Linked DNA regions of Homo sapiens: region 1 is linked to region 2. A link means that fine-mapping ties the variant in region 2 to the expression of a gene that starts in the linked region. Tissue or cell type: whole blood. Region 2 holds a variant in brackets; the other region holds the start of a gene. All regions are shown on one strand. Distances are from middle to middle.

Region 1 (6,484 bases), 22 kb after region 2:
CTGAGACAGGAGAATCGCTTGAACCTGGGAGGCGGAGGTTGCAGTGAGCTGAGATGGCGCCACTGCACTCCAGCCTGGGCGACAGAGTAAGACCCTGTCTCAAAAAGAAAGAAAGTTAGTTAGTTTAATTGGACCCATTATCATTGAGCCTCCAATCCCGGGACTTCTGTGAGTCACCCAAGACCTCCTACTTGCTCACCCAGACTAGAACAATGTCAGGGTCCCTGAGTTGATTCAGCCTCGGGCCTGGCCCTGCAGGAGTCCCCAGTCTAGAGAGACAGAGCTGGACACAGATATCACCGTCCTGCATGGTCAGGGCTGGGCCAGATGGAGGGACAAGGTCCAAAAGAACCTGGACTAAAGGAGGGCTCATGGGAGTTGGGGTTTTAAAGCATGAATAGGAGTTCACTGGGCAAGGAATTATTTGTTTCAACAAACATTCCCAACCCTGCACTGGTTAATGACAGGGCCCCTGAAAAACTTCAGTCCCCACCACACCCCCTTAGGAAACCTAGTTTGGTGGCAGGGGTAGGGTGGTGAGCATGCTACACTGACATCCCTAGGGGAAAAGCCCTAAATTTCCATATCATTTCTTAGCTTCTGTCCATGACCAGGACCCTAAGCATCTCCAAATCTCTTAGAGCTGTGCTGACTGGCATGGGAACCACTAGCCCCATGTGGTGACTTAATTTTTTTTTTTTTTGGAGACAGGGTCTCGCTCTGTTGCCCAGGCTGGAGTGCAGTGGTGCGATCATAGCTCACTGCAGCCTCCACCTCCCAGGCTCAAGGGAGCCTTGAATAGTAGCCTCCCGAGTAGCTGAGACTACAGGCTCACGCCTGAATAATTTTTGTATTAAGTTTTTTTTATTTTTTTATTTTTTCTGGAGACAGGTTCTTGCTCTGTCACCCAGGCTGGAGTGTGCAGTGGCATGATCACAGCTCATGGCAGCCTCGACTTCCCAGGCTCAAGTGATCCTCCCATCTCAGCCACCCGAGTAGCTGGGACTACATGTCTAACTAATTAAAAATAAATTTTTTTTTTTTTTTTTGTAGAGACTAGGTCTCACTAGTGTGGCCCAGGCCAGTCTCGAACTCCTGAGCTCAAGCCATCCTCCTGCCTGGGACCCCCAAAGTGCTGGGATTACAGCCATGAGCCACAACCCCTGGCCTTAATTTTTGTATTAATTTTTGTATTAATGTTAAACCAAGTAAAATTAAATACAATTGGCTGGGCGCAGTGGCTCACGCCTGTAATCCCAGCACTTTGGGAGGCCGAGGTGGGTGGATCACTTGAGGTCAGGAGTTCGAGACCTGCCTGGCCAACATGGTGAAACCCCATCTCTACCAAAAAATATAAAAATCAGCAGGGCGTGGTGGCACACACCTGTAGTCCCAGCTACTTGGGAGGATGAGGCAGGAGAATCACTTGAACCTGGGAGGCGGAGGTTGTAGTGAGCCAAGATTGCCCCACTGCACTCCAACCTGGTTGAAAGAGTGAGATTCTGTCTTAAAAAAATAATAATTAAATACATACATACATACATACATACATACATACAATTATATGCCCAGCTCCTCAGCTGTGCCAGCCTCTCTTCCAAGGCTCAGTAGCTACATGGGGCTGATGGCTGCTGTATTGGATGGCCAACATTGTTCTAGAAGATCCCAGGAACCAAGGAGCCCAAGTTCCCCAGAAACCAAGAATCTCACTACTGTTTTCACAGTTTCAATTAGATTGCCTCACCCCACCTCTGGCAGACAGATACACATGGAGCACCAGTATGTGTGCGACCCTGTACCCAACTATTCACACGCATCTGCTCATCCAATCTTCATGCCATGCCCTCAGAGGCAACCCCAACTTTATGAAGGAAACCGAGGCACAGAGAGATCAATCATTGGTCCCGGCTGACTGTGATTTTGCCCCTGGTCTGTCTGCCAATGACCTCCTGTTTGAAACCATCACGCGTGGCTCTCTGGGTTTCCAAGCTCCCCTTGCCGCCCCCCTAACCCAAACCACCACTCACAGCTGGAATGGGGGACGGGGGGCAGGGCAACGGGTGGCCCCATGCAGGCTTTGGCCAGCCCAGGAAGTGACACCTGCTACTTCTCCTGAAACCCAGGCTCCGGGCAGGGGGGCCTCCCCTCTGTTCCTGAGGGGGGCCAAGGCGAGATGATGGGTATCTACTGGCCAGGGCTCAAACTCACCGGACAGGGTAGCGAGTGGGATGGGGCCCCTGTCTGACGGGGCAGGCGCCAGGAGACAGCCACGAGGCCACTTCCGTCAGCACCAAGTTGGAGGCTTGTGTGCATGGGTTGGGGGGGGGACAGGAAGCTCACCCCGCCCCGCCTACCATCCAACCGCCACCTTTCCTCCCCCGCCCGATCAGCACCCATGGGACCTCCCTGGAACCACACAGGCCATGGGTGAGTAAACAAGAGGCGCTTGAACCTGGAGCCCCCCGGCCTGAACCTGGAGCTGTTCTTACCGAACAAATATTAATCATGGCAATTGGGAAATAACTGAGCACCAACCCTGGCCCAGGCATTCAACATCTTGCCATCCTGAGGTAGGCCGATACCCACTTCACAGACTGGGCAAACTGAGGCTCAGAGAGGGAAATGCGCTCAGAAAGGGGAAGACATGGCCAGGCGCGGTGGCTCACGCCTGTAATCCCAGCACTTTGAGAGGCCAAGGTGGGTGGATCACGAGGTCAAGAGGTTGACACTATCCTGGCCAACACGGTGAAACCCCGTCTCTACTAAAAATACAAAAATTAGCTGGGCGTGGTGGCCCATGCCTGTAGTCCCAGCTACTCAGGAGGCTGAGGCAGGAGAATCACTTGAACCCGGGAGGTGGAGGTTGCAGTGAGCCAGAGGTTGCAGTGAGCCGAGATTGCGCCACTGCACTCCAGCCTGGCGACAGAGCGAGACTCCATCTCAAAAAAAAAAAAAAAAGAAAAGAAAGGGGAAGACATTTTTGCATTCATGAGCGCTTTCCTTCACTACAAAAGAAATTTAAAATTATATTTTAGGTGGTGGCTGATGCCTGGAATCCCAGCACTTTGGGAGGCCGAGGCAGGTGGATTGCTTGAGCCCAGGAGTGCGAGAACAGCCTGGGCAACATGGTAAAACCCCGTCTCTACTAAAAATACAAAAGTTAGCTGGGTGGGGTGGCATATGCCTGTAATCCCAGCTACTCGGGAGGCTGAGGCAGGAGAATCGCTTGAACCCAGGAGATGGAGGTTGCAGTGAGCGGAGATCGAGCCACTGCACTCCAGCCTGGGTGACAGAGAGAGACTCTGTCTCAAAAACAAAACAAAACAAAACTGTATTTTACAACTACATTGACATAAAGACAAATATATTAATATTATACACAAAAATGTTTCCTTCAACCCAAGAGTTCATTTTTTTCCCTTTGGATTTTAAAAGAAGTGAAAACATCAACCTAGGGACCCCTAAAAGCACTGTGAGCCTGAGACACTGGGCATTTTGGGTCTGATGGAGAAGTCAGCCCTGCTAGAACCCAAGTCTCCCAGCCTGTACAGTACCAGCACAAAGCCCAGAGATGGCCGGAGACTTGCCCAAGGTTACACAGCACATTGCCAGCTGACTCAGAGGTCCCCATCCTGCCTTCCCGGCACCAAGTCTTGCAAACCTGGGGCTGAGACATGTGAGCAGCCCCAGAACAGATAAAACAAAGCAGGAACCACATCAGCAACAAAGGCAAGACCCGAGCTCCCATCCTGGGAATCGAGTGGTGCCTGGCTGGGTGTCCGGAGCCGCTGACGTCTTGCCTGATGACCTTGGGCCACTCCTGACCTTCCACGATCTGGCTTCCAGGATCCTGGGAAACAGGATCTCACATTTCCCTCTCTCTTGGACCCCAGTGTATGTACAGTAGGGCCAGTAGCAAGGGTTTTCTCATCCTTCCCACGGACCAGTCACTTGGTTCAAGCAGGTACCATGCTGTTTCAATGACCCACTATGTCATGTCTCCCCTCTTGGCCTCGCCACCTGGGCTGCGATCACAGACAATCTGGCTTGATTCTCGTCACCACACCTCAAGGCAGTATCTTATCTCAACCAGCACCACGATGGGGAAACTGAGACACGTGCCCCAGGTCACACAGTGACTCGGGCCACCAAGTGGGAATCTGAGCCAGGGATTCTCAGAAATTTTCTGTCCTCCCCATGGGTCCCCTCCCTCTTCCTCACTTCATTTGGCAAACATCTATTGAATGCCTACTGTGTACCCAACTTTCCCAGGTGCTGGAGTCTCCTCAGGCAATGCCTTTGATAGACTCCCCCTTCCCCTCCCTCCTCCTGGTCAGCTGTGACCCGATTTAAAGAGCACTAATACTGTCATTAATATTATAATAATCATGTCTGTATTTACAGAGCTTCCTCCTCCCACAGACTCCTCCCATCTTCCCAGAGGAATTCAGCCCATTTCACAGAAGAACAAACAAAGGCACCAAGGGAAAAACACACACACAGGTAGAGGCAAATTCAAACCTGGGGGTGTCAGACTCCCAGCCCCATGCCCACCACTGGGAGGGCGCTCCAAGGGACAGGGAATGAGCTGGCCTGGCAACTCCCACCCCCTCCTGCCCAGGACCTCGCCCGAGAACAGGTTCACCCCTGGCGTGGGTGATGGTATGTGGGTCAGGGTGTGCCCTAAGTGGCCCCAATGGTGAGACCAGGGTGGCGATGCCCCATCCCAGCCATTGCAGCTTGGTCCTATGTTTTACTCCCTGTCCCCATGCCCTCAGCCCCAATATCAGAGTGTCATCATCAACCCATTTTGCAGTGCAGTAAACTGAGGCTGAGAGGATAGCAAGGCACTGTGGGAGGGTCTCCAAACCCAATGCTGTCTTGACCCCAAACCACCCACATGTTAAGCAAAAGAGTGAATCACCATTGGACAAAATGTGGGCTGGGTGAGTTCAGAATCTGTAAAATGCAGGGTCCGAAGCTCCCAACCTCAATTTTCAAAAGAGGAAACCGAGGTTCAGAAAGGTGCTGTCACCTGCCCAAGGTCACCAGTGAAGCAGGTCCATTCGACACTGCCTCCTGGTCCCCAGTGCAGCTGGGGCAGGTGACTCGGGGGATCCAAGGCAGATGGAGGGGTCCCCCACCCCCCAAGCCTCCTCCGCACCCCACTCACAGCCAGCCTCTGGCAAGATCCTAATTTACCTCGATTTATTTTAATCCCCAGAAACAGATGCTAGCTGTACACCCCGCCCCTCAGTAAAAGAGGGACCCCCCCCCCAAGTCCAGGCTCCAGGCCCTTCAAGGCCTGGCCTGGATAAACCGTGCCAGGCAGGGGACCCCACAGTGACCTCCTCCCCAAAATTCCAACCTTGGGGTCCCCACAGAAGATGCCAGTGAAACGCCCCCCACCCCATCCTTAAGGTGGAGGACTGGGATGGGGCAGATTAGAGGAGGGGCCAGGTGACACCCCAGCTCCTCCAGCCACCAGGCCTGGATAGGGGTTCACAGTGGAGGAAAAGGGAAGGGGTCCCTCGTCTCGGTCCCCGGTGGTCTGCAGGCCGGAGCTGGGAAGAGGGAATCTGCGGGTGGTCCCCATCTCAGCCACCGCCCAGGGTTCCAGGCTGGAAGGGGAGCGGCGCCCCCATCTTTGCAGCCCCAGAACCCAGACCTAGGCTTAGAATAAAAGAATTTGGGGAGGGGTCTCGCGTCGTCGCCGCCCCCGTGCACGCTCGGTTCTAGGCCAGGAGACGGGGGATTTGGGGAGCGGTCCCCATTTTCGCCTGCGGACCCCCAATTACCACTTGGAGGGGGAAGCCGGGGCGCCCACCGCGTAGCCCCAACCCCCTGCTCTCCATCCCTCGCGTCCCGCCGCGCCTTTGCCCTCCGCAGCCGCCGGGGCTGCAGGGCACGGTGCGCGTGGGAGGCTGCGCGGGCCAGGGTATCCCAGGGGGTTCCGGGGGGCAACACTCACCTCCTGAGCTCGGGCCGAGCCCCGCGCTCGCCGCCACCTGCGGCTTGGTCGCTGACACCGGAGCCCGCCCCGCCCCTCCCTCCGCGGCTGCGGCGCGGCTGCCGGCGGGCTCCGCCCCCGGGGCGTGGCCTAGAAAGTCCCCACCCCCGCGACGGCGCCAGGAGGCAGGGCGGGCTCTGATCCCGCGCGGCCCCCCATTGGGCCATTTAGGCGCCCAGCTCCGCCAGCTCAGCGCGCTGATTGGTCCAGCCGAAGACTAGGCTCCTTTTTATGTTCCCCCCCTTACGCCACCCGCAGTCTATTTGCATAATTTAAAGAGACAGGCGCCACTCTTTCGCCCTGAGACTCAGTGGTAAGGAGTAAGGAGCGACCAACGTTTATTGAGCGAACAGGCAGGGCTCAGTTGATGACCCCCCACAAGCCTGTAACCTGGACATTATTGGTCTTTATTTTACAAATGGGAAATCTGAGGCTCAGAGAGGGCAAGATCTTGCTTGGAGGCCACACAGCAAG
Region 2 (7,732 bases):
TGTGCCGCTGCTGCCTCGGGGCTGCAGGCTGGAGCCCGGGCCGGGGCAGGCTTGATGTGCACATAGAACTTGCGGGGCTCTTCATCGTCGAAGTCGGAGTCGCTGGACGAGAAACGGGAGGGCTCGGCCGTGCGTGGGCTGCAGTCAAGGTCCAAGCCAATCCCAACACAAGCTTTCCCCCAGTCAGCTCTCCAATCCAGCCTCGTCCCTCCCTGCTCAAACCCTTCGAGGTCCTGCCCAATCCCATCGCTCACCACGCGCCACCTTCAGTCCTGACACCATGTCCCACCAGCACTCCCACCCCCCCCGAGAAGCCTTTGCACAAGCATGCCCAGAACTAACTGGCAAACTCCTATTCGGCTGCAAAACCCCAACACTGGTGCCCCCTCCTCCAGGAAGCCCTGCTAGATCTCCTTTTCTCTCTCCCTCTTGCCCAGTGCTGACCCCATAGAGTGGGTGTTTACATTTAGGTTGGCTTCATCCACAAAGGAGACTCTCTCCAGGATGTACACAGAGAGGACTGCTGAAGGTGGACTGGTTATTACGGAGAATTTTGTCCTTGCTGTGCCAACAACTGCCCCCAGGGGGTGCCAGAAGGATATTGTTCTGGGTCACATCAGGCCGGACAGTGAAACCTTCTTCATCCACCTCTGGACATGTCTAGGGGAGTCAGGGGGCAGCAGTGAGTCAGGCGCCCCACTATCGAACCTTCCATCTCACCCTGCCAACCGCCCCCCGCCCTGCCCCCAGGCCTTGACTCAGACCTCAAAACCAACCCTGATGGCAACGACTGTCTTCCCTGGGTGTGTGGGCAGGTTCCTGGGACAAACTGAGCTTCGGCAGGGACATTATTCACACCCACGTAGTCCATGGGACTTTGCAGCTGAGGTGGGATATGAACCCAGCCCCCAGGCTCCAGCCCGCCCCTCAATCTCGGCTCTTTAGTTTCCAGTAGGGATCGGGACTCTAGGAGCCAAGAGTGGGATCAAACTCCTTCCACTTGTAGCCCAGCCTGACCCCTCCCACATCACTCACCCCTGAATCGGGCTCCAGGAAATCTCTGGGGATGGAGGAAGAGATGTTGGTGTCAGCTTCCGCAGCCCATCTGGTGCCCCCTGTCAGCCCCCAACACTGGACATGGAAGCTGGGGCAGCTCCCAGACTGTGATACTGCCCTGAGCTAGCCCTAGAGGCGGTGGGACCATGGGGCTTGCTTGGGGAGGGGGTTGAATCTGAAGTTAGCTGAGTAGAGAGTGTTCTCAAACAGCCTGGGAGGGAAGGAATCCTGGAACTCATTTGAAGGGCTGCCTTGTGAAGATAGGGAAAGTCGGGGCTAGCCTTGGCAAACAGAACAATCCTGGGCCAGCTTGGGCAGGGAAGATGCTACGTTACTCTGGGACAGGCAATTCCTGGCCTAACCTAGCAAAAGGAAGAATTCTGGACTAGCTTGGGCAGCGGTAATATTGAGCTAGCCGGGGGCAGAGGTACTCCTGGTCTAGCTCAGGTAGAGGGAATCCTGGTCCAGCCTGGAATATGGATACTCCTGGGCTATCCTAGGAGGGGACTTCTGGGATAGCCTGGGCAGGGGAGGGGATCTCGGTCTAGCCTGGGCCAGACCGGGCAGGGGTGCTTCCTCACACAGCTGCAGGTGGCTCTGGCTCCCGCTCCCGCCGGCTTAGTCCTGGAAGGCGAAAGGCCTTGGCTCCCCGCAAACGTTTCATCGCTGAGGATAGATTGGGGGGCACCTGAGCACTGTGAGCCTCCTTTCACATTCAGATCAGCCTCCCTCACCCCCATGGTCCAGCCTGGGCATCCAGGCCCAGACGTACTTGCCTTCCTGCAGGGCAGCCGCACTGTATGCCTCGAAGTCCAGAGGTCCTGAGACAGGAGACGGAAACTCAATTGAGGGGCTGGGCACGGTGGCCCATGCCTGTAATCCCAGCACTTTGGGAGGCTAAGGCGGGCGGATCACCTGAGGTCAGGAGTTCAAGACCAGCCTGGCCACCATGGTGAAACCCTGTCTCTGCTAAAATTACAAAAAAGCCGGACATGGTGGCAGGCGCCTGTAATCCCAGCTACTGGGGAGGCTGAGGCAGGAGAATCGCTTGAACCCAGGAGGCGGAGGTTGCAGTGAGCCGAGACTGCACCACTGCACTCCAGCCTGGGTGACAGAGCAAGACTCTGCCTCAAAAAAATTAAAAAAAAAAAAAAAAGAGAGAGAGAGAGAGAAAGAAACTAAATTGAGGGTGGGGAGACTGCGCTTGGAAAGGGTAGTACACTTTTGGCCACAAAATGGCACCTGGATCTGAACTCAAGGTCCATCAGGTTCCCGGACAAGAACCAGCCCCACATCATCAGAAGTGGGATGGACCAAGGGGCTGGTCTGGTTCCAGCAGGGCAGTGCCACCGCAGGGGGTGACATGAGCTACTTCTACATACTTCCAGCATTTGTGGCTGGAACTTGGGTTGGGTCGGGGAATGGACCATGCGTCTGTGCAGTGGGCTGGGCTTTGAGTGACAGGATAAGGAGTGGGAACTCTCTCCCAAGAACAATGGGGAGCCATGGAAGGTGTGTGAGCAGGAGGAGGACAAAACAGATCTGGGGCCTGTGAAGGGCAAGAGTGGGGCCCCATGCAGGGAGGGGAGACCTGAGCCAGGCCTGAGCCAGAGCGACAGGAGGGAGAAAGAACAGGTTTTGCTAGTTAACAAGACTTGAGGACGTAACTGTATACCAGCATTTAGTGAGTGCCTACTGTGTGCCTGGCACACCCTTTGCCCTTTACCTGCATGAAATCACTGAATGTTGCAACATTATTACATCCTCACTTTACAGATGAGGAAACTGAGGCTCAGAGAAGTCAAAGCACAGGTCCTAGGTCACACAGCAAGCGATGAAGAAAAGACTCAAACCCACGTCTCACTCTAAAACTTTTGCTCTTAACTCCTTCCCAGTCCTGCATCTGCGCATTCCCAAATTGTTCTTTTGCTCAACAACCCTCAATGGCTCCCTTAGGCCCTGGGGGTGAAGTCTGATCAGCCAAGCCTGGCATTCAAGGCTCCTCTGGGATCTGGTTCAAAGACATTTACACATAAGATCAGGCTGGAGAGCTGGACTTGTCAGCAGCCCATTTTTCCCATGAAGAAACCAAGGCCTGGCCATGTGCAGTGGCTCACGCCTGTAATCCCAGCACTTTGGGAGGCCGAGGCAGGCAGATCACCTGAGGTCAAGAGTTCGAGACCAGCCTGGCCAACATGGTGAAACCTCGTCTCTATTAAAAATAAAAAAATAAAAAAAAAATTAGCTGGGCATGGTGGCACATGCCTGTCTGCAGCTGTGGCCCCGAAGCCCGACCCCCAATGGCTGCCCTGACTCACCAGGCTTCTCCCGGCCTGTGCCCTTACTCTCTGCAAACTTCCTGAGTAGCATCTCCACGCTGACGTTCTCGATGTTCTGCTTAAATTCCTCATGCACCTGTGCCGGGTGGGCGGGGTGTGTAACTGGTCAAGGCCCCTTTGCCCAGCAGTGACCCCAGCCTCATTCCTCACACCTGCCCAACTCACCTGCCCAATCTGCACGTGCGTGTCCTCCACCGAGTGAGCATATGAGCCCAGCAGTGCCTTCATGTGCCTCAGGTGTGTCTCCTCCATGGCTTGGAAGCGCTGAAGCAGGAGGGCAGAGGCAGGTGGAAAGGAGGTCAGGGCCAAGAAGAAGTGGCCATATGACTCAGCCTGACCAATCAGAATACCCTAAGCCCTTGGCTCAGTGATTGATTTGGGGAAGGGCCAATGAGAGTCTGCCCTAGGACTTTCATTGACTCTACAGGAAAAGGCACTTCCATTCCTGAGCCAATGTGCTGATGGGATGTAAGTGGGGGTTGCTGGTGCCCAGTTTGATGCACACATGTGCATGCTTGCACACACATGCACACACACACACACACAAGGGGATGTCTGTGTGGGAGTGATGTCCCCAGAGAGAAAAACAGACTTAAGAAGCAGAAATAGTGGTCAGCTGTGGTGTATCATGCCTGTAATCCCAGCACTTTGGGAGGCCAAGGCAGGTGGATCATCTGAGGTCAGGAATTCAAGACCAGTCTGGGCAACATGGTGAAACCGTTTCTACTAAAAATACAAAAATTAGCTGGGTGTGGTGGCACGTGCCTGTAATCCCAACTACTAGGGAGGCTGAGGCAGGAGAATCACTTGAGCCCAGGAGGCGGAGGTTGCAGTGAGCTGAGATCACGCCACTGCACTCCAGCCTGAGTGACAGAGAGATCCCATCTCAAAAAAATAAAAGAAGCAGAAATTCACAATTTCCTGCCAGCACTATTTGAGCACATGGATTCAGCTATGACTGAAACCTCCACAACTCAAAAA[T/C]AAAACTTTACAGTTCCCTGAGCTTGTCAGTTTTTTTAAATTTTATTTTTTATTTTATTTTTTATTTTTTTGAGACAGAGTCTCGCTCTGTCGCCCAGGCTGGAGTGCAGTGGCGCAATCTCGGCTCACTGCAAGCTCCGCCTCCTGGGTTCTCGCCATTCTCCGGCCTCAGCCTCCTGAGCAGCTGGGACTACAGGCACCCACCACCACGCCCGGCTAATTTTTTTGTATTTTTAGTAGAGAGGGGGTTTCACCGTGTTAGCCAGGATAGTCTCGATCTCCTGACCTCGTGATCCACCTGCCTCGGCCTCCCAAAGTGCTGGGATTACAGGCATGAGCCACCGCGCCCAGCCTTTTTCTTTTCTTTTCTTTTTTTTTTTTATATACACCTGTCGGTTTGAATGAAGGCTTCTATCACTTGTAACTTGAAAAAAGTTCTGATTCCTAATCCTCAGATTCCAATCTGCTTGAATTTATTTTATTTTTTCGAGACAGGGTTCCACTCTATCACCTAACCTGGAGTACAATGGCTCGATCTTGGCTCACTGCAACCTCCGCCTTCTGGTTCAAGTGATTCTCCCGCCTCAGCCTCCTGAGTAGCTGGGATTACAGGCACCTGCCACTACGCCCGGCTAATTTTGTATTTTTAGTAGAGACAGGCTTTCGCCATGTTGGCCAGGCTGGTCTCAAACTCCTGACCTCAGGTGATCCTCCCGCCTCGGCCTCCCAAAGTGCTGGGATTACAGGTGTGAGCCACCACACCCTGCCTGGGATTTCTGCAGTCCATAACCTCCAGGGCAAAGGCATGTGTGGGTCTTAAAGGTACAGATGCCTGGTTCTTACCAGGGCTGAGTCCAGCATCTTCTGCTCAAAGTCAGCTCGGGCTGAGTTGTATTTTTCCACTGAGCGCCGCAGGCTCTCTGCCGCCTTCTTGGTTTTAGTCTCCGCCTACAAAGCACAGGGAGGAAACGGGGATGGGAGGGCGATACTCAGGGGGCCTCCCCCAGGCCCCATCACCTGGCAGGTGAACTCCTCGGGGTACCCAGGGTGTGATCACCCACAGGTTCCAGGACCGTCGCTCTGGGATGTGTTTCCACTCTCTGATCAGGCAGCCCCTCCGCCCCGCGGCAAATTCCTCAGAACCCCCCCACTGTGAGCCCACCTTGTCCATCTCCTTCTGGCTGGTACTCTCCCTCCGCAGCCGCTCCTGGTCCATGCAACGGTTCAGGTAGTTCTCGCGGGACTTGGGCAGGAGCTGGCTGACGCCCGAGAGTACCTGCACAGCATCCAAGGTGCTCACCACTTCCTCCTTGCACTGCGGGGTAGGAGGGGATTTCATGGGTAGACTGTGAAATTCCTGACCTCCCAAACACTCCACGTGATGTCAGCTCCACAGTCTTTTTCTATGTGTGTGTGTGTGTTTTGGTTTGGTTTTTTTTAGACAGAGTTTCGCTCTTGTTGTCCAGGCTGGAGTGCAGTGGCACGATCTCGACTCACTGCAATCTCTGCCTCCCGGTTTCAAGCAATTCTCCTGCCTCAGCCTCCCAAGTAGCTGAGATTACAGGTGCTCACCATCACACCCAGATAATTTTTTGTATTTTTAGTGGAGACGGGGTTTCACCATGTTGGCCAGGCTGGTCTCTAACTCCTGACCTCAGGTGATCTGCCCACCTTGGCCTCCCAAAGTGCTGGCATTACAGGTGTGAGCCACCACGCCCGGCCTCTGTGTGTGTGTTTTAATAGCAATGGGGTCTTGCTATGTTGCCCAGGCTGGTCTCAAACTCCTACACTCAAGCAATCCACCTGCCTCAGCCTCCCAAAGTGTTGGGATTACAGGTGTGAGCCACTACGCCCGGCCTGTACGTTTTTCATTTCAAAACATTTTTAACTTTAAAAAAAAGTACTATTTACACATGGTTCATATTTCAGAAAGTTGTAAGAGGTAAGCCAGGAAAAAGCCTCCCATATATGGGCCCTCCAGCCTAGAAGTCCCCAATTATTACTGTGATACTTCTCTAGAAATAATCCGCATATGGATAAAGATGCTTGTTCTAACCCAAGTTTTATGACAAACAGTGGCAGACTGTGTTGCTTAACTCACCGTTTTGTGTGTGTGTGTGTGTGTGTGTGTGTGTGTGTGTGTGTGTGTGTGTGTGTGTTTGAGACGAAGTCTCGCTGTGTCACCCAGGCTGGAGTGCAGTGGCGCGATCTTGGCTCACTGCAAGCTCCGCCTCCCGGGTTCACGCCATTCTCCTGCCTCAGCCTCCTGAGTAGCTGAGACTACAGGCGCCGCCACCACGCCCGGCTAATTTTTCTTTTGTATTTTTAGTAGAGACGGGGTTTCACCGTGTTAGTCAGGATGGTCTCGATCTCCTGACCTCGTGATCTGCCTGCCTCGGACTCCCAAAGTGCTGGGATTACAGGCTTGAGCCACCGTGCCAGGCCTTTTTTTTTTTTTTTTTTTTGAGGCGGAGTCTTGCTCTTTCACCCAGGCTGGAGTGCAGTGGCACAATCTCAGCTCCCTGCAACCTCCGCCTCCCGGGTTTAAGCGATTCTCCTGCCTCAGCCTCCCAAGTAGCTGGGATTACAAGCATGCACCACCATGCCCGGCTAATTTTGTATTTTTAGTAGAGACAGGGTTTCACCATTTTGGCCAGGCTGGTCTTGAACTCCCGACTTCAGGTGATCTGCCCGCCTCAGCCTCCCAAAGTGCTGGGATTACAGACATAAGTCACTGTGCCCAGCTTTTTTTTTTAAGAGATGGGGTCTCACTGTGTTGCCCAAACTGGTCTCTAACTCTTAGGCTCAAGCAATTCTCACACCTCAGCTCAGCCTCCCAAGTAGCTGGGACTACAGGCATGCACACCACGCCTGGCCTGCTTTTACCACTTAAAAATTCACTCCTGGCCAGGCACAGTGACCCATGCCTGTAATGCCAACATTTTGGAAGGCTGAGGCAGATATGTTAGATGTTTGACCAGCCTGGGCAACACAGCAGGACCCCTTCTCTCTCTCCTTTTTTTTTTTTTTGCCTTGTTTTGTTTTTGAGACAGAGTCTCACTCTGTTGCCCGGGCTGGAGTGGTGTGTCGCGATCTCAACTGACTGCAACCTCCACCTCCCAGGCTCAAGTCATTCTCCTGTCTCAGCCTCCTGAGTAGCTGGGATTACAGGTGTGTGTGCCACCACGTCTGGCTAATTTTTGTGTTTTTAGTATAGACAGGGTTTCACCATGTTGGCCAGGCTGGTCTGGAACTCCTGACTTCAAGTGATATGCCTGCCTCAACTTCCCAAAGTGCTGGGATTACAGGCATGAGCCATCGCTCCTGGCTAGCAAGATCCCTTCTATACAAAAAAT

Evidence for each region. PIP is the estimated chance that this variant, and not a neighbour inherited with it, causes the effect.
Region 1: it holds the start of FCHO1, and the variant in region 2 is fine-mapped to the expression of FCHO1 in whole blood (TOPMed, PIP above 0.99).

Annotation. Positions count from the first base shown.
Region 1 is chr19:17,747,302-17,753,785 of GRCh38, reverse strand. It overlaps FCHO1 (FCH and mu domain containing endocytic adaptor 1), which reads right to left and starts at 2,309. Exons shown (of 29, transcript NM_015122.3): 1 at 2,209-2,309. FCHO1-AS1 (FCHO1 antisense RNA 1) reads left to right here and starts at 2,389. Exons shown (of 5, transcript XR_007067152.1): 1 at 2,389-2,570; 2 at 3,036-3,128; 3 at 4,423-4,503. RefSeq lists an enhancer at 1-151 and a silencer at 5,837-6,256.
Region 2 is chr19:17,768,384-17,776,115 of GRCh38, reverse strand. FCHO1 (FCH and mu domain containing endocytic adaptor 1) reads right to left here. Exons shown (of 29, transcript NM_015122.3): 8 at 5,539-5,691; 9 at 5,220-5,324; 10 at 3,561-3,659; 11 at 3,375-3,471; 12 at 1,833-1,877; 13 at 1,638-1,722; 14 at 1,036-1,060; 15 at 603-660; 16 at 1-133. Among named protein-coding and RNA genes, the nearest start is that of FCHO1, 21 kb to the right of the region's middle. The variant T/C (reference allele first, on the strand shown) is at 4,377.